3 separate regions of the Homo sapiens genome follow, and regions 1 and 2 are each linked to region 3. The links come from fine-mapping of genetic effects on gene expression. A gene starts in region 3. Each other region holds a variant in brackets. All regions are shown on one strand. Distances are from middle to middle.

Region 1 (8,191 bases), 120 kb after region 3:
TTCCTGAGTACCTTGGACTATAGGTGCATGCCGCCAAGCCCGGCTAGTTTTTTTTTTATTTTTTTGGCCTCCCAAAGTGCTGGAATTACAGGCCTGAGCCACCGTACCAGGCCAGGAGTGGTATCTTGTATACACATGATAGAGGACATGTCTTTATTGTATTAATTTCAAGTATTCTGATTGTGTAGAGTGTGGAAGAAGGAATAAAAGAAAGGATAAGAAATGCATGCAGTATTTAAATTGTGAATGAGAGATATTAGACTGAAGGCTCCCAGTGTGTGAAAGCCTCTATTACTTGCTGTCCTGAAGCTAGGAATCCAAGTCCAAAATCTCTTTTTGCCAGTTTTCACCATAGTAGCTAAGAACAGGGATGGATATTTTTTTTTCTTAAGGACTCTAAATTTATTAAGGTTTCTTGCCTTTCTTTCCACCTGTACCAGGCCAGCTTTCCCGGGAGGACTCCATAGGCATTGGTCCCACAAGTACATCAATCTTTGTTCTTTAAAATATCTGTACTTTAAAATACCTGACTTGATAATCACCATTCTCAGATATGATACTCCATATTGGAGTGGTTGCATAATCTATATGTCCAATTATTACCTGGTAAGAAGGAGAACAGTTTCTTACCAAATATATGCAAATAACTACCATAAGGTAACTTGCCGCCAAAAAATAAGGAGATTTACTTAAATTTTCCAATTCTAGCAGGAGAGGGTGTCATGAGAATCAGATATTATTTCTAAAATGCTTCACTGGAATTTGTAAAATCAGTGTTGATTAGATAGCTTAAGAAGAAAGAGAAGTAGCTTCCTTATATATCTAAAAAAAAATTGTAAAAACAAAATCAATAATACTCCAAACAGATAACCATAATACATTTTCCCCCATTAGTCCATTTAGTCATTAATTGTCGTCCTGTGGGATCATGAGTTAGCAGTCACATTATATCATCTGCTTCTTGTCTGGAATTGAGTTCTGGGTATCCTGATTCAGTCCACTGATATGTTTGAAAGTTGTCTAAACGATATCTGCTCAGAAGTCTGTCTTCAAGAGTCTGTTATCTGGATAGTCAGTAGTTTAAGTACCTAGTACAGTCTCTTACTTAAGTCTCTAAAACTGTTTTACTTGTTGAAGAAAAAATCTCTGATTTTTGGTTTTGGCAGAGACTTCAGGCAAGCATCAGGTTCAAATGAAAACTGTCTGTGGATGATGGTTATTTAAAATGGCTGTACTTAACTTATTCCTAATAACAGTTAAATTTGAGAGGTCGAATGAGGGTTCAAAATAAGCATAATGCAAGTGACAAAAAAATTGTTTCTGAGGCATACAAAACAAACAACAACACACTTCCAAAATCAAAGTTAGACAAAATATTCCTAAGGTCAATAATTAAGCCTGTTTTCAAGACATTGAATATCACATCTGATTTACACAAATGTATGAACATGATTTTTATTAAGAGAAAAACTCAAGATATGTGATAAAGTGGTTCTGAGACTTAATTTTATAGATCAAGTATGTAAAGCAAAAAAGATGCAATAAGTCCAGAGTAGGGCCTAGACATCTGTATTTCTCTCAAACTCCAAGGGTAAGTCTGATATGTATGCCCAATTGAGAAAATTGAGAACTAGTGTCTAACAGATGTTATATTTGAATTAAAAAGGTATTACTATCATCAATTGACATTTTAAATAATAACTGAAATTATGACTACTATTTATTATCAAATATTGGGCAAAGCAGGAAGCTGTAAGCTATACAAAAACTGGACAAATATTCCAAAGAGCTATGATAACTGTTTCTCTTGAGATTGAAACATATTATGGACAGCGAGGACATTAACAACTCTCTCTAAACTTCCATAAAGCATGTAATTTCTTAAATATTGATATTAATAATATTTTACCTATACAAAGTTAGGTCAATGAAGGCTGAGAATCAATAACTATTCCCATGCAACTGTTATCATAGTAACACATCAAACAAACCAAATGCTTTCTAGTATTTCTATTTATAAGGTGAAAAAAATATTTTATTTTCCAGGTGCCCTTTGGGCTATCTCAAAATATTTTCAGGTATAAAAGATATCCTGACAATTGCATTCATTTTTTATGTATTTAGAATCTGATTTGAAGAATGCAAGAAAGAAAATAGAAGAGGAGATTTAGATACTTGATTAAGATATGGTCTGATAAACAATACTTGTTACATATTTAATAAAAGTTATAATAAAATGCTTTTTTAAAAAAATAGGCTCCACAATTAAAAAGAACATTAGCTCTTTTATAATTGAAAATATTTTCATATTGTGGACAAAGGTGTTAATCTATAACCCAAGGAAGAAGAAAGACTATAAAAATTGAACAAACTGTACAATTTTAACACATTTTACAGACTTTTTTTCAGTCTCAGGTATGATAAATCAAGGCGAATAAAATTTACTTTCCAAGTTTTCCTATGTTTTGCTGTCGTCTTATTTTAAAAATATCTATATATCTAATGATTATGTATTAATTAACACAACTTTATATCAATCAGTTTTTTTTTTTATTTTTTTTTTTCTGAGACGGAGTCTCGCTGTAGCCCAGGCTGGAGTGCAGTGGTGCAATCTCGGCTCACTGCAAACTCCGCCTTCCGGGTTCACGCCATTCTGCTGCCTCAGCGTCCTGAGTAGCTGGGACTACAGACGCCCGCCACCATGCCCAGCTAATTTTTTTTCGTATTTTTAGTAGAGACGGGGTTTCACCGTGTTAGCCAGGATGGTCTCACATCCTGACCTCGTGATCCGCCTGCCTCGGCCTCCCAAAGTGCTGGGATTACAGGCGTGAGCCACCGCGCCCAGCCTCAATCAGGTTTTAAGTTATCTAAAGGTCTTAGAATTTATCTTTAAGCTGACATATGACAAAATATGATTAGTCTTGAAACAATGTTTATCAGAATAATAATACAATTAAGGTGCATAAAAACTTACATTTTCACAATCATAAACTTTATGTTAAAGTTAGCTTATTTTATCAGTAAGCCTATTAAAGTTTATTAAAAACAAACTCAAATGTAATAAAATATAAGTTGGTCTTAAACTTCACATCGATTAATCAGAAGACAGTTTTTTAAATTAAATCAAAATTGTTAGATTGGGCTTCTTTGCTTAAAGATTTATCTTAATTTAGCTTGAAACCTTAAAACATTTCTAAGTTTTTGCAAGAAAATAAATTTTAGATCTAAAATTTTTTTAGTTATAAGTTTAAAGTCTTTGTTTTCTTGAAACATTAGGAATATTTGATTTATATACGCACTGATTTATCTCTATAAGCCCGCTGAAATACAATTCTTTTAGTTAAAGTTACTTATAATCTAAGTTATTAATATTCTCCTACATAGGAGAATTTTGGCCACAGGTCAAGAGACACAAGAGATAAACAACGGGGTTCACTGGTTCAGATATCAAAAAGCTGTTATTTTTCCTGTTGAAGCCCAACTTCTTAATTGATTTGAGATTAAACTAGGCAAATAAAAAGCACACAAAAGAATCGTGAACCAGTCATTGTAGTCTCTAACAAAACAGTGAACATATCTCTATGTCCGTTAATCCATTTGTAGATCTCACCAAATGGTCATATCCATGATCAGCTTCATCCGTGTGCAGTAGTGCAGACTTCTACACTTGGTGTAATTCTCTGCTCTTGCTGACTCGAAATTCTTAATATTTTTTTAACAACGGGTTTTGTATTTTTATTTTGCATTAGGCCCCTCAAATTATGTAGTCAGTACTATTATTTTTCTTTTTCAAAATGTCTTGGCAATGTTCAGGCATTTATTTTAATACAAAAACTTTAGAACCAATCTATTTTCTCCTCACCCTAACCACCCTAGTACACCTTACCCACTCCCCACACATCCTTTTGGTATTTTATCTGACTCATTCATTTGAGAAGAATTGGCATTTTTATTATTTTGAGACTTTCCATCCTAGACATAGTTTATTTTGACACCTACTCAGATCTTGTTTTTTGTGTTTCTTTTGACATCTACTCAGATCTTGTTTTCTTTGCTTCAGTAAAATTTTATACTTTCTTACAAATAGAGTTTGTACTTTGTTAAAGAAGCTATTTACTCTTTTTTTTTCATTATACTTTAAGTTCTGGGATACATGTGCAGAATGTGCAGGTTTGTAACATACGTTTACATGTGCCATGGTGGTTTGCTGCACTCATTAGCCTGTCGTCTACATTAGGCATTCCTCCTAATGCTACCTCTCCCTTTGCCCCCAAACCCCCGACAGGCCCCAGTGTGTGATGTTCCCCTGCCTGTGCC[CA/C]TATGTTCTCATTGTTCAACTCCCACTTATGAGTGAGACAGATGCTGGAGAGGATGTGGAGAAATAGGAATGCTTTTACACTGTTGGTGGGAGTGTAAATTAGTTCAACCATTGTGGAAGACAGTGTGGTGATTCCTCAAGGATCTGGAACTAGAAATACCATTTGACCCAGCAATCCCATTACTGGGTATATATCCAAAGGATTATAAATCATTCTACTATAAAGACACATGCACATGTGTGTTTATTGCAGCACTATTCACAATAGCAAAGACTTGGAATCAACCCGAATGCCCATCAATGCTATTTACTCTTTATCCTTACAATCTCCTTACCAATTGCCACTTGAATAGCAAAATAAATGCTTGATTCAAGAGCCGGGCACAAAAAAGTTTGTGAAACAGATTTAAGAAAGTAGGGAGGGAGAGTGGAAAGGAAGCAGAGGAAATCAATTGTCTATAGGTATTTCAGTACAAATTCAATGTTAGAAAAAAATAAAGAAAAGCCTTCTTGCTGAAATAGGATGACTTTTATGGGCTGGATTCATTTCTCAAGCCAGCAACTTGTCATGTCTACCTGGCACAAATGAGCCCCAATAAACTAAACCTGTGGAATTAAAATTTTTCTCCTTACATACTCCCAGAAACTTTAAGGTTACATTTAATTTTTAATTATTATTTTAAGGATGTAGCTTTGGTCATGTTACTAATGTTTGTGTCCTTTTATGATTCAGTTGTTAAACATATTTTTAATACATCCAATAGAATTAAAATGACATATCACATCTGAGAGGGATAAATTAATTCTGACTATAAGAAGCAGGTTTTCTGAAGTGCAGGGCACTCTGCCCTAGACTGGCCTAGATTGTAATAGCAGCACATTTTGCCCAGCACACGCACTTAAGATTTCTACTATTAAGAGAGCAGATTTTTACCTAATTTGTGGAAATTAACATAAAAAATAGGAAAAGGTATTGGACCGAAGGTAAATATAAGGTTTAAAACAAGTACATTGATTATTATCTTTTAAATGCTCTTTTTATACAGTATAATCCACAGTATACTGAAGTTAGGTTAATGTAAATCTAGTAAGTTCATGGAATAAATACACACCATGAGAGATAACCAGGAATGTTACTGGTAAATAAACAGAGCTATGGTGTATCAGTGACAAGTGGGAATCTGATACCCACATGAAAAAATGCACATAGTCGTACATTATCCAGGAATTTTGTCACAAGTCAAGAAACAGATGTCTCCTATGAATCTAAATAAATAGTAGGGAAAAAAGAAAACAATCTACTGGTCTTCCAGAAATACATAGCAAATTTTAACTTCCTCTATCTTATCATACAAAGCACAAATGAGTGACAGCCATTTTTTTTTCTTTTGTTTTCTTTTCTTTTTTTGAGATGGAGTCTCACTCTGTCACCTAGGCTGGAGTGCAGTGGCAGGATCTCGACTCACTGCAACCTCTGCCTCCCAAGTTCAAGCGATTCTCCTGCCTCAGCCTACTGAGTAGCTGGGATTACAGGCACGTGCCACCACGCCTGGCTAATTTTTGTATTTTCAGTAGAGACGGTGTTTCACCATATTGGTCAGGATGGTCTCGAACTCCTGACCTCATGATCCGCCTGCCTCGGCCTCCCAATGTGCTAGGATTACAGGCATGAGCCACTGCGTCCAGCCGAATGAGAGTCTTTACCAGATTTCTTCTCCTTAGTGAGACTGAAAATGCCTTTCATAAGTCTTGAATATTCCACTTCAAAAATGCATAGACAGATAAGGCATAGAGACTTGTCAGAACTTGTAGACTGCATGAATCAGGTGCTACCATCTTCAGTATTCCTTACTGTTGTTCTTGGCTTTGCTCCCCTGAGATACTCAGCAACAGTGTTTTGACAATAGTTGAGTGATGGGAGAAAAGACTTTATTAAACAAAAATTGTGATCATTGCCACGACTCCAATCTATAATATATGTTGAATTCATAACATGTTTTTATGGGTTAAAGTAACTTCCTACTTACAGGATTCATTTTCACCAATATTAGGAGTAAAACAAGGAAAAACACTATGATTTACTGCTGGTTCATAGTGACTTCATTTAAGGAGGTTTTGCCAGAACCAGTATTTTGAAGTATTGGTTGGTGCTGTGACAATTTCACAACTGTCAATGAATAATAACATTAAGAATGGAAAGAAGTATGCCTTTCTTTCGAAAAGTAGAAAAAGGGTAATTATGAAAGACAATATTGGAAATGATGACAGGGGTATTCCCAAACAGATCAGTTTTAGAAACAAAAACATGGACTTCAGGACCTGGAAGCAGACGCACTTAAAATCTTCCATGCCGACATACCAAGATCCTTCCAAAGTAGGCCTACCTCAGTTTGAAGACTGTGAACTTCACTCGCTAGAAGCACTTTAATGGGATCTCTTTAGTTTAACTTCCTATAGGACATTTAATAATATGATCTCTTTAAATGGAAGATTAAAAAGAACTATAATCCAGATGTAACAGCATCAAGATGCAACTGAATTTTTGTGGAAATTGTCAGTCTGGTTTTAAAATTTATATGAAAATTAAAAGACCAGCAATAGCCAAGGCAATCTTGAAAAAGAAGAACAAAAAGTGGAGGAAATGGAGAACTTAACTACTGAATATTAAAGCTTATTATAAAGCAATGATAATTAAAACAGTACAGTATGAGCATCAGAATAGACAAATAGACCAATAGGACAGAAACAGATCTACACATGCACAGTCCTTTGATTTGTGAGAAAAATAACACCATGGTGCAGTAAGTGAAGGGATGGTATTTTCTTTAAACAGTGCTATGTAGTTGTGTCAATATGAAAAAACAAATCGCGTCTCGACCCCAACTTCACACCACACACAATGATCAATTCCAGGTGAATTGTAGATTTGTATGTAAAAGATAAAAATATAACATTTGCAGAGGAAAACATAAGAAAATATATTCAATAATCTTGGAGAAAGCAAAGATGTTTTAAACAGAATACAAAAAGTGCAAACCAAAGAGAGAAAAATGATAAATAGTACATCAAAATTAACTCTTCTGTTCATCAGAAGAAACTCTTAAGGGAGTAAAATGGAAATACACATAGTGACAGAAGATATTTGAAATACCTATATTCCAATAAAGGGTGTATATCCAACGTATATATTCATAAAAATCAACAATATACAAACAACCTATAGAGAAAAGACAAAAACCAAATGTTGTGGAGACTGAGGTGTCACCTGAACTTTTCTTTTCTTTTCTTTTCTTTTTTGAGATGGAGTCTCACCCAGGCTGGAGTGTAGCGGCAAGATCTCGGCTCACTGCAACCTCCGACTCCCAGGTTCAAGCGATTCTCCTGCCTCAGCCTCCTGAGTAGCTGGGATTACAGGCACGTGCCACCACACCCAGTTAACTTTTGTATTTTTAGTAGAGACAGGGTTTCACCATGTTGGCCAGGCTGGTCTCAAATCCCTGACCTCAGGTGATCCACCCGCCTCGGCATCCCAAAGTGCTGAGATTACAGACGTGAGCCACTGCACCCAGTCTATTTTCTGACATGAGAGTATAAATTAGCATAATGACTATGGAGAAGTTTGCAAGAATAGCAAATAAAAATAGAATACCCATTTATGTAAAAACATTTGGCAGTATATACTAAGGATGAATATATGTACAGCCAATGAAAGTAATTCTCCTTGATTTATATAACCAATAAAAATAAGTTAATGTGTTCCCCAAAATACTGGTACAATAATGTTCATAGTAGCACTACTTGTAATAGCCCCCAAATAAATACACCCACATGTTCATCAACAATTTAAATAAATACACTGTGGCATATTCATGA
Region 2 (8,191 bases), 730 kb after region 3:
ATGTATTTTGCAGGGACATGGATGGAGCTAGAGGCCATTACCCTTAGCAAAGTAACACAGGAACAGAAAACCAAATGCTGCATGTTCTCACTTATAAGTAGGAGCTAAATGATGAGAACACATGGACACACAGTGGGAAAGAACATACACTGGGGGCTTTTGAAGGGTGGCGGGTGAGAAGAGGGAGAGGATCAGGAAAAACAACTAATGGGTACTAAGCTTAATATCAGGGTGATAAAATAATCTGTACAATAAACCCCCATGATATAAGTTTGCTTATGTAACAAACCTGCACTTGTACCTCTGAACTTAAAAAAAAAAGTCTGACGAAGGCTTTTAATAGTATTAATTTTCCTCTTAATACTGCTTTTGCTGCATCCCCTAAGAGGTTTTGGTATGTTGTGTCCCTATTTTCATTAATTTCAAAACATTATTTGATCATTACAATGTCCATATGGCCCAAAGAAATTCACAGATGCAACACTATTCCCATTAAACTACCAATGTCATTCTTCACAGAATTAGAAAAAAAGTATTCTGAAATTGACATGGAACCAAAGAGGAGTCCAAATAGCCAAAATAATTCTAGGCAAATCTGGAAGCATCACACTACCTGACTTTAAACTATACTATAAGGCTAGAGTAAACAAAACAGCATGGTACTGCTACAGAAGCAGACATGTAGACCAATGGAACAGAATAGAAAACTCAGAAATAAAGGAGTATAACTGCATCTGATGATCTTCAACAAGGCCAACAAAAACAAGCAATGAGAAGAGGACTCCTTATTCAATAAATGGTGCTGAGATAACTGGCTAGCCATATGCAGAAGAATGAAACTGGATCCTTACCTTTTGCCATATATAAAAATTAACTCAAATGGATTAAAGATTTAAATGTAAGACCTCAAACTATAAAAATGTTAGAAGAAACCTAGGAAATACCCTTTTTTACATTGGCCTTGGCAAAGAATTTTTGGCCAACTCCCCAAAAACAAATGCAAAAAAAACCAAAAATTGATAAATGGTCCTAATTAAACTAAAGAGCTCCTGCACGGCAATGAAACTATCAATAGACAGTCTTCAAAATGGGAGAAAATATTCTTAAACTATGCATCCAATAAAGGTCTAATATCCAGAATCTATAAGGAACTTGAACAAATCAACAAGCAAAAAACAAGTAACCACATTAAAAAATGGGTAAACCATATGAACAGACACTTCTCAAAAGAAGACATATGAGCAGCCTAAAAACATATGAAAAAATGCTTATTATCACTAATCATCAGAGACATGCAAATAAAACCACAATGAAATACCATCTCACACCAGTCAGAATGGTCATTACTAAAAAGTAAAAAAATAACAGATGCTAGTGACGTTGTGGAGAAGAGGGAACACTTATACACTATCGGTGAGAATGTAAATTAGTTCAGCCACTGTGGAAAGCAGTATGTAGATTTCCCAAAGAACTTAAAACCGAGCTACCATTTGATCCAGCAATCCCATTGAGAGGTGACAGCGTGCTGGCAGCCCTCGCAGCCCTCGCTCACTCTCGGCACCTCCTCAGTCTTGGCACCCACTCTGGCCACACTTGAGGAGCCCTTCAGCCCACCGCTACACTGTGGGAGCCCCTTTCTGGGCTGGCCAAGACCGGAGCCGCCTCCCTCAGCTTGCGGGGAGGTGTGGAGGGAGAGGCATGGGTGGGAACCGGGGCTGTGTGCGGCGCTTGTGGGCCAGCATGAGTTCTGGGTGGGCATGGGCTCGGCAGGCCCCACAATTCGGAGCGGCCGGCCAGCCCCGCCGGCCCCGAGCAGTGAGGGGCTTAGCACCTGGGCCAGCAGCTGCTGTGCTAGACTTCTCACCAGGCCTTAGGTGCCTCCCTGCGGGGCAGCACTCGGGACCTGCAACCTGCCATGCCTGAGCCTCCCCCACCTGCCATGGGCTCATGCGCAGACTGAGCCTCCCTGACGAGTGCCGCCCCCTGCTCCATGGCCCCCAGTCCCATTGACCACCCAAGGGTTGAGGAGTGAGGGCGCACAGCGTGGGACTGGCAGCCAGTTCCACCTGCGGCCCTGGTGAGGGATCCACTGGGTGAAGCCAGCTGGGCCCCTGAGTCTGGTGGGGACTTGGAGAATCTTTATGTCTAGTTAAGGGATTGTAAATACACCAATCAGCACTCTGTATCTAGCTCAAGGTTTGTAAACACACCAATCAGCACCCTGTGTCTAGCTCAGGGTTTGTGAATGCACCAATCGGCACTCTGTATCTAGTTAATCTGGTGGGGACTTGGAGAACCTTTGTGTCTAGCTAAGGGATTGTGAATGCACCAACCGGCACTCTGTATCTAGCTCAAGGTTTGTAAATGCACCAATCAGCACTCTGTGTCTAGCTCAGGGTTTGTAAATACACCAACTGACACTCTGTATCTAGCTAATCTAGTGGGGATGTGGAGAACTTTTGTGTCTAGCTCATGGATTGTAAATGCACCAATCAATCAGCACCCTGTCAAAACGGACCAATCAGCTCTCTGTAAAACAGACCAATCGGCTCTCTGTAAAATGGGCCAATCAGCAGGATGTGGGTGGGGCCAGATAAGAGAATAAAAGCAGGCTGCCTGAGCCAGCAGTGGCAACCCACTTGGATCCCCTTCCACACTGCGGAAGCTTTGTTCTTTCACTCTTTGCAATAAATCTTGCTGCTACCCAATCTTTGGGTCCACACTGCCTTTATGAGATGTAACACTCACCGCGAAGGTCTGCAGCTTCCCTGCTGAAGCCAGTGAGACCACGAACCCACTGGGAGGAATGAACAACTCCAGACACGCCGCCTTAAGAGCTGTAACACTCATCGAGAAGGTCTGCAGCTTCACTCCTGGGCCAGTGAGACCACGAACCCACCAGAAGGAAGAAACTCCGAACACATCCGAACATCAGAAGGAACAAACTCTTTGGACACGCCACCTTTAAGAACTGTAACACTCACCGCGAGGGTCCATGGCTTCATTCTTGAAGTCAGTGAGACCAAGAACCCACCAATTCTGGACACACCATTACTAGGTATATACCCAAAGGAAAATAAATCATTATCGAAAAAAGACACATGAACTTGTATGTTTATCACCATGAAATTTACAATAGAGAAGACGTGGAATTAACCTAGGTGCCCTATCAATGGTATATTGGATTGAAAAATGTGGTACATATATACCATGGAATACTATGCTGCTGTAAAAAAGAATAAAATCGTATCCTTTGCAGAAAAATGGATAGAGCTTGAGACTGTAGCCCTAAGAGAGCTAATGCAGGCACAGAAAACCAAATACTGCATGTTCTAATTTTTAAATGGGAGCTAAACATGGAGCATACATTGACATTAACATGGGAACAACAGACACTGTGGACTACTAAAGTGGGGAGAAAGGGAGAAGGGTGTTGATTGAAAAACTATTTTTCAGGTACTATACTCCCTATCTGGGTGCAATATACCCATGCAGTGAACCTAAACATATACCCCCTATATCTAAAATAAAAGTTTAAATTAAGAAAAGAGTTTTCTGTCATGACACAATGTTAAATGTGACAAATAAGTGATACATACAGGCCTTAAATAAAATCACTATTAAAGTACCCTGCAAAAGTTGTGCAGAGCAACACCCCCACCCCAAGAGATTTGAGATATTCAGGAATTTAAAAGGATCCTTACCTAGAATTTTACCAGAACGTATATACAACAAAGACTGGGATCATTTTAAAAACTGGCTACTTGGGGATGTGGGAAAAGATTCAATGTGCATTTTTTGTAGAGTGACTACATATTCTGATTTGCCTGGGATGGTCTACATTCACACCAGCTGTCCCACCATCACATCTGGTTTCTCCTTTCCCTCTGAAAAGTATCCCAGCTTAGATGATAAATTACATGCTCAACCTATAATTCTATAGGTTATTCATTTTGGAAGGATTTTTAAGGGGTATGAAGTGAATTCTCTTGCTACATATTAATAAACAATTAAATGTCTGCAAGGCAGGCAGAGTTA[C/T]GCAGTCTATTTATATCAGGTTAAATGCCTCAATTCATTCTCTTAAAATATTCAAATATGTAATTGATAGAGTTTGGCTGTGTCCCAAAGAAAATTTCAACTGAATTGTATCTCCAAGAAGTCCCACAAGTTGTGGGAGGGACCCTGGGAGGCCCTTCTCCTACTGTTTGCATGATAATGAAAAAGTCTTATGAGATCTGACGGGTTTATCAAGGATTTCTGCTTTTGCTTCTTTGTCATTTTCTCTTGCCGCTGCCATGTAAAAAGAGCCTTTCGCCTCCCACCATGATTCTGAGGCTTCCCCAGCCATGTGGAACTATAAGTCCAGTTAAACCTTTTTTTGTTCCCAGTTTCGAGTATGTCTTTATCAGTAGCATGAAAACAAACTAATATAGTAATATAAAAATCTGTTTGACCTTTTTCAAATGTAAAAACTAGTAAGCAAGCAGCATTTTATCTCCTTTTCAAAGTAAAACATGTTTGTTCAATTGTATATGGTAATTTTCGTTTACAAAAACCATGACAGTATTCTTGAAAGTGTTGGCATTATTTCTCAAACCTAAAAGAAACAGAAAACAAAAGAAAGTATAATTTTTCACTAGCAGTTGAGTTTTTTGCATGGATTATAATAGATTTCACCAAAATTAAGTGGAAATTTATATTTTATTTATAATTCATTTTGAAATAAAAATTAATAGTGATTAAAATATGATACTTTTAAATATTAAGAAAATGTTACAAACTAGTGATATCCTTAAGAAATACAGCTATATTAATCTTGCATTTAATCAAAATATGTATTCATTTTATATAATACATATTTTTAAGTTAATAGTCATAAAGAAAACATAATGACAGTTCCCCAATTAATTCAACTTGTCATAAGGAATACTTAAAATTTTGTTCTGTTCCTTTGAGATGTTTTGCTGGTCTTACTTCTTTTTATAAGATCTATCTTTAGGTTGTTACTCACAACCCATAGCTTCCTAGTGGTAAACTTTGCTTTTAAAATTTCTCACCCTGCTTTGTGTTTCTGGCTCCTCCTGTAAGTATACACTTACCACACGGCACATATATGTAAGTATACACTTACCACCATGGCACATATATGAAATAACAATTTACACCTTTTTCTTTCAAAATTCTGCACTCTGGTCCAAAAGAGAAGTGTTTCATTGTATTTTTTAATGAATTTTTTAGTGCAGCAAAAAAGTAGAATTCATATCAAGTAGATAAATAGAATGCCAATAATATGACTATGCATCTGCAGATATTTTTTAACATAGAAACCAAAAAAAAAAAGAAGTAATAAAAGCACTTGTGCTCAGCACTTTTAGCTAGTCAAAATGACAATGAGTCATTTCTGACAGGCAAAAGTCATGGCTCCTTCGCCATTTGATATATCAAAGGATATACGCAGTGAGAGTAACACAGAAACTGCCGATATTACGTCGTAATTTGTTTCCTTATAACAAATATAAAAAACATTATAATTTCCCGTCATTTATTCATGTTTTCTCATCAGTGTTGTTTAGTACATAATGTCTTCTCTAGAAACAAGACTAGGTGCGATGGCTCATGCCTGTAATGCTAGTACTTATGGAGGCAGAGGTAGGTTCGAGACCAGCTTCAGCAACATGGTGAAACTGTCTCTACAAAGTATAAAAATTAACTGGGTGTGGTGGTGTGTGTCTGCGGTCCCAGCTACTCAGGAGGCTGAGGCGGGAGGATCACCTGAGCTCAGGAGTTTAAGGCTGCAGTGAGCCAGGATTATGCCACCACACGCCAGCCTAGGCGACAGAGTGAGACTCTGTCTTGAAGAAGAAAATAAAATAAAATAAAAATAGAAACAGATAAACTTTAAATGTTCTCATTATTTTCCTCTCCCTAAAAGAAAATTTAAAACATTATCCCCTTTTCAAAAATGAGAGCACTAAAACCCTTAAGAAATTTTCTCTAGTAAAAAAAAAAAAAAAAAAAAACTTCATTAGTGTTCTATATTCTAGATTTCATAGGAAAACACTGATGGATGAAGACATGTGTATTGAGTACCTATTAATAAAGGTTATTAGGTTATATTAGGCAATGGAGAAGATATAAAAATGTGTGAGAAATGTTTGCACCTGCCTGTAATTGAACTGGTCATATAAGACAACAGGAACAATTAGCATCTCATGTCAAATTAGTAGTAGTGATATCAAGCGCAATACAATTTCAGAGGAGAGAGCCTCACGGCAACTGTTTTTAACATAGAGGATGAAAATGAGTGAGTTTTAAAAAATGGTAGAATTCGCATAGTCAGAAGGAGAGAAGAAATTCCAGAAGAGGGGAAAAATAATGTAAACAAAGTCAGGAACAAGGTTTTCTTGAAGTACAGTGACTTGTACAGACATTATAAGTAAGCTGTAATTTATGAGCTGAGTTGATGAACAGGCAGATGAGTATTGGAAGTGTGTGTTCATTGTGGCACTGTTCGCAATAGCAAAGACTTAGAACCAACCCAAAATCCCCATCAGTGATAGACTGGGTAAAGAAAATGTGGCACATATACACCATGGAATACTATGCAGCCATAAAAAAGAATGATTTCATGTCCTTTGCAGGGATATGGATGAAGCTGGAAAGCTTCATTCTCAGCAAACTAACACAAGAAGAGAAAACCAAACACTGCATGTTCTCACTCATAAGTGAGAGGTGAACAAAGAGAACATATGGACACACGGAGGGGAACATCACACAGTGGGGCCTGTCAGGGAGTGGGGGGCAGGGGGAGGGATAGCATTAAGAGAAATACCTCATGTAGATGACAGGTTGCTAGGTGCAGCAAACCACCATGGCACATGCATACCTATATAACAAACCTGCACATGTACCCCAGAACTTAAAGTTTAATAAAAATAAATAAATAAATAAATAAACAAACAGAATATAAAGGCCTCTGAATACCAGCTAAAGGTTTTCACATCATCCTATAGGAAATTAACCACCACTAAATTTTGATAAACGGTAATATGATGAATACCCTATTTTAGAAAGTTTTTTTTTTGTTGCTGTTATTTTGTTGGGTTTTGTTTTGTTTTTGAGACAGTCTCGCTCTGTCGCCAGGCTGGAGTGCAGTGGCGCAATTTCGGCTCACCGCAAACTCTGACTCCCTGGTTCAAGAGATTCTCCTGCCTCAGCCTCCCAAGTAGCTGGGATTTACAGGCACGCACCACCACACCCAGCTAATTTTCGTTATTTTTAGTAGAGATGGAGTTTCACCATGTTTGCCAGGATGGTGTCAATCTCTTGCCCTAACAATAAGCAGTATATTCCCTGAGATCTTGCTATATATCAATTGTTTTGCTAGGAACTTTCCATAAGTATTTCATTTTGAAAGTAATTTTTGAAATAAATAACCACAATGCAAATTAATTAGCCTGCCTCCAACCTTCCCATGCCAATAACCTGTAATCAGGGGATACCTGAAGCCTTCCCTTTCCTTCACTACAAAGCTTTACCACCACCTTTAAGAGTCTGACTGTCTTTGAGTCTCTGCAAAAAGCAAGTGATGGTGATTATTCTCTTGCTACAACAAGTTCCGAGTAAGTATCCTCTGTTTGCTCTCATTCAAGTGGTTGGTTGTCCATTTCCAGAGTATGTAACAGGTACACGATTTTAGAGTAAAAAATAAAATGTATCATATCCTTGAGAATGGGAATAAATGTTCATTGATTCACTCTAAGTCGGGAAATTTATCCTCAGGAAATTAATATAAATAGCATAAAAATTCATCTAAATACTTTTTGCTTCATTATTTAAAATATTGAAAAATTAAAGCCAACAAGTCTAAAAATAGGTATTTGTTTAAACAAATTGTGGTAATAAAGAAAATGAAATACCATGTAGTCATTTTAAAAGTATGCAGTAAAGGAGTATTTATAGACATGGAAAAATTTCTCTGTTATGTTTTGAAAAGAAATGAAAACAGGTTATGTATAGTACAAATGGGACCATTATTAGTTTTAAATCGATCTTTAGTGGTTTCTCCTAACTGGCTTTGGTTAGGTAAAATTGAGGTTTTCTTCATTTTGTAAATATACATACTATATGTAAATTCATAAAAAATTTTATCTGAATAAATTTCTTCTAAAATATAAGAAATATAAAATAT
Region 3 (8,191 bases):
TTAAACTACAAAAGGAAATAATTGTATGGCCTATATATGGATTGACATAATAAAATGTTATATTTTCAAAGGAATCCATGCTCTCTTCTTGTACATATATATATATATATATTTGTGCTGCAAAACTGAAAAACAATGTAATTAAAGAATGAAGTACTGATATGTAAGACAGCCATAACTTTTTGAAATGAATACATGAAATATAGTTAATACTAGCTGCAGAGAAGAGAATGTGCCAATAATAATGGAAAACTTTAGCATCAGTATTTTCTTTGTAAATTTTAATATAGAGGGAAAATAAACAATGCCTATGGCTATCAAATTTTTCTGAAGATCTAAAAATATGATTTTTCTACACATATGTTTGTAATGCATGCTAATTAATGGCATAAAGTCATAAGTAGTCAGGTCTCAAAGGGGACTCCAGATCTTCGATTCAAAATATTTCATTTTATAAAGAAAACGAAGACTGAAAAATCAAGTGCCTATCTAAAGCCACACCATTAATTTGAGATCAAGCCTGGCTACAACTCAGGTGTTCTGATAAGTGTCTATTATAAAAATATGTATGTAATACATGAACATATAAAATACATCTGTATCATATCTATGTGTGTATGTATTTTTAACATGAGTATTTGCTAGTAAAAATAATTATACATTCTCTCTGAAAGTCAGTCACTGTTTTATGGTATAATCATTAGGGCATCAAAAGGATAAATAAAGTGTTGCTTAAGGAGCACAGTGTTTATCAGAAGTCAATACAATGTTAATGATGCCCCCGTAGGACCTCACAATTATCGTTAAGTTGCCTGGGAAATGGACTCAATGCACACAATACTTTGGGCTAAACTTCTTTTCAATAGCTTTTGGGTTTTTTTTTTGTTCAAAAAAAAATCATGTATTTCATAATAAGAAGTTGGCTCCTCATTTGAAGTCCTAAATATTGATTTATGTGACAAATTATTACTATTCCAAAGAAATCAATGCAGCATAGAGCATCATAAAATATTTTTGATAACACATCTTTTAAGTATTAAGGATTTAAATTTACCGTGATAGAAAAAGTGGATGAAGAAACATTTACCCTTAAGGAATACAACGAAATTCTCAGAGAAATAAATGCATAAAGTAAAATAATACTGTTTTCTCTAGTTTATTTACCTCTACTTGTTCTATAACTAATATATCAAAGTCAAATATCATTTGAGATTATACCAAAACACTTTAGTAATTGCTTTCCACAAATAGTAGCTGTTATTAAAATGCAGCAGTAGCTTTGACAAGAACCACAGCCATGTTCCTCAGCAAAATACTACCCCAGGAATTGTTGGGTGACTGTTTTATCGTTCAATAATTTGTCTTAGGAGTCCCAAGTCACCTTTAACTTTTACCTTTACAGATAAGCTTTCTTTCATAACTGATAATGAACTGTAATAACAGGGCAATAGCCAGTTTAATTTTGTAACATGCATAAAATCCAACTTAATTTCCCAAATGAGCATTTTATAAATAGTGAGTAGGAAAAATACATAAAACAGAGGTGGACATTACTACTTCTGTTCTGGTATTCCCCTTCGCTAAGATGTTACTCCATAAAATAAAAATAAAATTATTATGTTCTACAAAGAGTAATGATGATCAGTCTCAAATCCCCCCTGGGAAATTTAAAGGTAAAAACACACTTATCTTCATATCTTCCTCTTTATGTAGCATATTGCTTAAATTTGTAAATTTATAATTTCCTCAAAAAAACTCTTAATAACTTGTCCACTCCAAGTGTTCTTAATACTGTGTATTGTCACGTGTATTTAAAGAAGAAATGCCAACTCCTGTTTTTGAGACTTGCTTGTTTGTGGGTGCAGTGGGAAGGGAAAATAGCCAGGTTAATTAGAATCTTTGTATCAGTGGCAGGTAGCCTTTTATTTTCAATACTCTAATAACAGTGACTTCAACCTAAAGGTTCATATCATCAAAATAGAAAACAAATTTGTGGAAAATAAAAAATAAGATTTTTTAATACTTTTAATATGCAAAAGCCTGTAGCATAGACTAGTGTTTTGAAAGTCACAATGGGGTTCACTTGGAATTTGTTTTAAAGACAATGTGTATTTGAAGTGTACATGTTATGACTGTGCAAGAGATGGAAAGATAGAAATTTATGTGGCAATGTGTACTGCATTAACCGCAGAGACAGTGGAGTTAAGAAAGTCTAAAAAACAAGCCTTATTTTCTCAAGGTCATCCCTTCTTGACACTTTCATCCCCTACTCCTTACTGCAGAATCCCAGGTGCCTGCTCAGACGGCCTATTCTGTTAAGCTTTTGGGGAGAATATATTAATATTTCAGAAATAACACACAGAAGAATAAAACAGGAACTGTGTTTACTTGAGTTCTTTAAAAGCTCTTGGATGACTCTTTGACTGATGAAATAGCAATCTATACAGATCCCCTGAGTATTGAATGCTGAAATCCAGCAGAAAGGGGACACAAAAAATTTTCTTTGACCTCTTCTGTAACAGTGATGTCTGCCCCAGATGTTAGAATTACAAGTCACATTGCTCCCAAGGGGTACAGTTCTCTTCGGTTTATCCCACACGACTCTACTCAGCAGGAGATGCTGTCTGTTACATAATAGTTCTCAGTATTAAAGGGTACAATAACTACACCCTTTCTCATGGTAAAGCTATGTCCAAAGACACATGGACATCTACCCAATGTCTCTTTTCTCCCTTCTCTCCTTCTCTCTCTCTCTCTCTCTCACAGACACACACACACACACACACACACACACACACACACACGCGCGCGCGCCTAAAGTACCTGCCACCTAATGATTAGCTAAAAATAAAGCAAACCTGCGCAATACAGATTTGGAAACATTAGGGATGGAAATCATGTTGGGAAGGAACAGAAGGACAGGTTTTCTCTTCTTCTTTTGTGTGGGCTTTTTTCCCGTCTTTTTTTTTTTTTAACCTGTGACAATTCGTTTTTAGCCCTTCGTCTTCTCTTTGCTATTGAATATAGTCTTGAGCAGCGTTGATTTCATTTCAGCTTCACTCCCCTGCTCCTGCCACTTGCCCACACCCACAGCTGCCACTCCTTGGAGTGGGGAAACTTCCCTTCTATTCTGCTGGGCTCATTACCGCAGACGCTGTTGCCTCTCCTGAACATTGGGTCAGCCTCCCCACCTCCACTCTTCCTTACTTCAAAGAGGTGCAAAGGAAGAGCAGTGTTTTGTCTTTTTTCTTTCTTTCTTTCTATCACCACACCACCCCCCACCGTCCCCCACCCCAAACAAAGATAAAACCTGAGAGTCGAAGCTTGTTCTCAGGAATACTAAGAACTTAGGGGCACAGCCATCCTCACACCAGTCCAAGACTTCTCAGAGTTCACTACACAGGGTTGAGGGCTGGACCGGCAAAACTCGATTTGCCCATCAAGTTAACTTGGTCGGCCTGGGACCCGAGGCCAGGGTGAAGGGACGACATCCCGGGGCCCTGTGGCTTCTCCCTAGAGCGCCCAAACAGCGGCGTAGGTCTGGGACGCCCCCGGCCCCCGGCTTTGGAAGAGGCTGGCGCGGAGCAGGCGCCTTGGAGCAGGGTCTCGGGGGTCCCCGGAACAGTCACGTGTTCTCGAGACGCCGTTAAACCCCCGCCCCCTCTTCCCCACCGCCGCCTCCAGGTCCTGCTCCCGCTGCTGCCGCCACCGCCGGGGTGCAGGAGCGATCGCGCTGGGCCGCGCTCCCGGGAGCCCAGGGCCTGCAGCGGCCGGGGCGCCCCGAGGTACGGGCTCCCGCCCCTCCCTGCCAACCCCTTTCGCGCCGGGTAGGCCTGCACCGAGGGGCCGTGGCGGGTCCCCGCGCGGGCTGCGAGTCTGCGCAGGTCCCTGGGAGCCCGCACCCGTCTCTGGTGCCAGGGCGTTGTCGGGGGTCCCAAGAGAGCGGGGTGGGGAAGGTGAAGGGAGCGCGGCTGGAAAAATGGGGATTAGGGTGGCGGAACAGGCACTTGTCAGGAGTGAAGAGACAGCGGAGAGGGTACTGGGCTGAATTCTTTCGTGCCGAGCAGGTCCCTCCGGTTCCCAACTCACCCGGGTGGAGCAGGCGCGGGCCGAACCCGGGAGGAGAGTGTCGGGGATCCGCGAAGGAGCCTCCTGGGGATGGGGCGGGGGATGGACAAAGCGCTGCCCCCGGCTGGACGCGCTCTGGCTGCAGCCCGGCTGGCATCCGGAGCTGGGAACAGCAGCCCGCGGGGTGCCCGGGTCAGGGCTCAACCCTAGCGGGTCTCTGGCGAGGCCGGGGGCGCAGCCCGCGGGGCGCCACTCAGGCCGTCCAGCTGCCGCGCGGTCCAGCGCTGACCCGAGCCCGGGAGGCAGCTGCGCTCTAAGGTTTGCGCTCCTGTTTGCGAGGTGTCTTCATATAACAAATGCGAGCAATAACAAACATCCATAGAACTCGAATTCCAGAAACGGGAATTCTTTTTTCCAAGTTCACAGACCTTTAGTTAATCTTTTAAAGGAACTGAGGCGTTGTGTTGGACCAAAGCCAAAACGATTTTACCTTAGACCATGGAAAATAGCCTAAGGCTCTTTCAGCAGAATTTTGCAGTCCGAATGCAATTTTAGATTTCAGATTTCTCAAGGGAAGAGAAACTCTGCTGTTAGAATTTGGAAGGGAGGGTGGTGCATGCCTGTGTGTTTGTCAGCTGAGCAGAGCTGTATTTATCTTTCCAATTCAAATTGTGCCAGATTCTGGCTTTAAGAACAAACCATGGGAATATTTGAGAACATGGAATCATGCTGCTGTTCCACGATCACAGCAAAACAGACAATAGTTGATATTGTATCATTGCAGGAGGAAAAAGAATTACATATATTTTATTCTTTTGTGTGATTGTCATCCTTTGTGAAAAGAATGATGTGTATTTTCATAAAGCAAAAAATTATTCAAACAAAGAAACCTTATTTAAATGTACAAGTCAGACTTTTAATATCCTTTGAATTCCCTGCAGTTCCTCCTATTATTCTTGAGAACTATCTACTTTCTTAAAATACTTAAAATCTATTCAGAAGGTTTCATTTGTCTAGGTGTCAGATATAGAAGAGTTTATAAGAAAATTCCAGTAAACCTTTAAAAAGATATTATTTTTTATAAGTTGCCATAGTTTAATAAAGAACTTTTATTTTTCACACTTTTTACTCAGAGATTAAAGTTCTGTGTTTCAGCCTGGAAATTCTGATGGTGGGAGATACAACTAATACAAAAGAGAATGAGTAAATATAGTAATTAGGTATGACAAAAGTCTCATGCTGTCAATATCAGATTTCTTGTCAAATAATATTCCATGTTAAAATATTTTTTCTCTGGCTATATTTCATAATTTATATAGCAATTTCAGAAGATTCACATATATCATTACTTTTATAATAGATAAAATATGTTGCATAAAAATGTACAGCACTCGTAATAACACTTGTTGAAATTTGGATTTCCATTGTAGGTCTGCTCATTGTGTTTTTCAGGAAAAAGGAAGGGAAAGGGTAAGTTTAATGGAAAAAATCCTGCTTTTTTGTTTGTTTTTTCATTTTAAGTGCGTTCCTGTACCTTAGATTTTCAACTTAAATCTTATTGTACAAAATTTTCCTAATGTTTAAACTATCCCCTGGCTACCAGGAGGCACTTTTAAAAAAACTACACGTCCACCACCACCCCTCCCCCACCCCCCCTCCCTGCCTCCAGCATTTGCAATATTCATTATTTAGTCGTAAGAAGAAATTCTTCCTTCATTGGAGCAAAGATTCACAGAATGTTCATTCTGTGCAGACTATATATTAGATATTACATGTGTGTATGTTTATGTGGTAGATGGTGTGGGGTGGGGCTAGAGGGAGAGCAGGAGAAAGTTGACTACAGTCACACCAAAATAAAATGAATAAATGAATGTTGAATGAATGAATGCTAAGAGAGAATTTTTTAAATTTGCTTATCAATCTATCAGTAGCTACATAAAGTATTCATTATATTCAGCAGTAATGCATGTGTCCATGCTATAGAGAAATAATATATTACTATCAGTCAGGAGAATGCCATTCATTTATTAATTCATTCATCATCCAATTTGGGGCCTTTTATATCTCAGCAATCTACAGTTACTCAGGGTGTGAGCTTGAATTAATCTATATAGAATATTCTTGGCATAGCACCTTGCATTAGTCGTCTTTATGCTTAGAGCAGAGCAGAGCACCTAGCAGAATATATGTTCAATAAATACTTTTTGAATGAATAAAAGAAGGAACAACTAATCATTCTTAGCTGTTCATTAATAGAAGGAGCCTACCCTTTAAAATTATATATAAATTATCTACTTTCTTAAAATACTCAAATGTTTTAAGGAATGAAAGAAGCATCCTCAGTTTTTTCTCCAGTGTCCAATGAATACTCAAGATGGCATTTATTTCATCTTCTTACTAAGGAGATGTGGTTTTACAATTTAATGCATTCAATATTTTATGTGCATATATTTAAAATAAAAGTTTTAATAACAGACTGCACAGTCGTGGAAATGGATATACTTCTTTTTTCATTTACATTTTTTAAATGTTGTAAATATATCTTACAGTTTTAGTTGCATGTTGCTTGTGTGATAGCCTTTATCAATGAAGTTATCCAAATTTAAAGTGCTAAACTATCTTTATTGTCTGTCTAGGTATCTCCTCCTCATTGCATTTTGGGGCCATTTGAAACATCTATAATTTCAATGGTTCTCTATAAATGTATATATAAAGATACATATACACACATATATATGTACACACAAAAATATAGTCATACTCTATCCTGAATTTTCCCACATTGCCAGAATGATTCATTTCTGTTATTTTAAAGCAAGGGAAATTAAACTGCTTTTCTAAAACGATTGGTAAGAAATATTTACTTAGCATCCACTATGTGTAATATGCTTTATTAAACATCATTTCTAGAATGAAAATAATTAAGAGTTTTATCTCCATTCGAATATAATAGAGAGGTCTAACCACATGGAATGGAGAAAAATCTGAATTTTAGACTCAAAACTACATTGTTTCTATTACCACAAATTGTGCTGCATCTTCTCTTTCTTCAAAAAATTTTGGACAGCAATTTTACACTAAGTAAGTATCATCCACAGTTACATGTTCCAAAAAGGCACAAAGCCGTTGTAGAAGGGGCCATCTAATTTCTCTCTTGTTCTTGCTTAGGTGTTACAAGGAAAGGCTATCGGTAACAACTGACCTGCCACAAAGTTAGAAGAAAGGATTGATTCAAGAAAGTAAGTCAAGAGAAGAACAACTAAGCAGGATTGCAGTTACAAGCAGCCTGTACACAATTATAAATATAAATAGGATCATGAATAAGCTGAATTGAGCCAGGGGATCATCAGAACTCAGGAAATTAGGCAAAAGCACCAGTCAAAGCTGTTTTGATTAGAAGCTTGCTGACCTATCCAGAGTAGGTGCTGAGAGGCCATTGACTGGGAATATGATGAATAATATGATTCAGTAGGTCATGCGAGTCACTTTTGTACCAGGTGTTCTTTGTCATTGAGGCAATATCAATGTAAATTGTTGGCTAGGGTCTAAGAATGAATGAATACAATCCTAAGTCTTTGAATTAACTTATCCTTTAAAAGGATGTAGTTAGCTTCCAGAAAATAATTTGGTCAACATAGAATCACTTGTAGAAGTTGTGAAAAACTTGTAACTTTTCTCATAGCACAATGATGACTCTGTCATCCTGTTTGAAACTTGCTACACATAGAACTGAAGTTAAACTTATTTGTAATGAATGTATGTACACAATAGTATTTGCCATTTGGAAATTTATTGAACGAAGACCTGCAGGTCCCTCATAAATTAAAGATAACAGTGTTTACTATTAATTTAAATAAACATGTATTTTTATAGTTTTAGTATAATTATTCAATTATAGATCTAGAAATAAGTAGATAAACATATATTGATAGGTAACAAAAGTGGTTTTTTAACTATATATATCACAATCTCTACGACAATGTATTTATTGGAATTAATTTCTTTGTTGGTTTGTGTTTTCTGTAGGAAATTCTTGTTAAAAGAACATTAAAGTGGCTGGGCACAGTGGTTCATGCCTCTCATGCCTATAATCCCAACAGTTTGGGAGGCCAAGGTGGGAGGT

Which allele goes with the higher level. Positions count from the first base shown, and alleles are read on the strand shown. Sizes are in standard deviations (SD) of each study's normalised expression. Not every link is listed here.
For the expression in atrial appendage of the gene that starts at base 3,677 in region 3, C is the high allele of the variant in region 2 and T is the other (moderate effect, 0.72 SD a copy in GTEx).

Evidence for each region. PIP is the estimated chance that this variant, and not a neighbour inherited with it, causes the effect.
Region 1: its variant is the best candidate, but not a certain one, in a credible set for the expression of NPY5R in lung (TOPMed, PIP 0.65).
Region 2: its variant is the best candidate, but not a certain one, in a credible set for the expression of NPY5R in atrial appendage (GTEx, PIP 0.61).

Annotation. Positions count from the first base shown.
Region 1 is chr4:163,456,612-163,464,802 of GRCh38, forward strand. No RefSeq gene overlaps it. Among named protein-coding and RNA genes, the nearest start is that of TKTL2, 13 kb to the right of the region's middle. The variant CA/C (reference allele first, on the strand shown) is at 4,318.
Region 2 is chr4:164,066,706-164,074,896 of GRCh38, forward strand. The region is part of intron 2 of MARCHF1 (membrane associated ring-CH-type finger 1); the gene reads right to left. Among named protein-coding and RNA genes, the nearest start is that of MARCHF1, 310 kb to the right of the region's middle. The variant C/T (reference allele first, on the strand shown) is at 4,039.
Region 3 is chr4:163,340,216-163,348,406 of GRCh38, forward strand. NPY5R (neuropeptide Y receptor Y5) reads left to right here and starts at 3,677. Exons shown (of 4, transcript NM_006174.4): 1 at 3,677-3,785; 2 at 5,499-5,538; 3 at 7,237-7,307. It also overlaps a transcript of NPY1R not described here.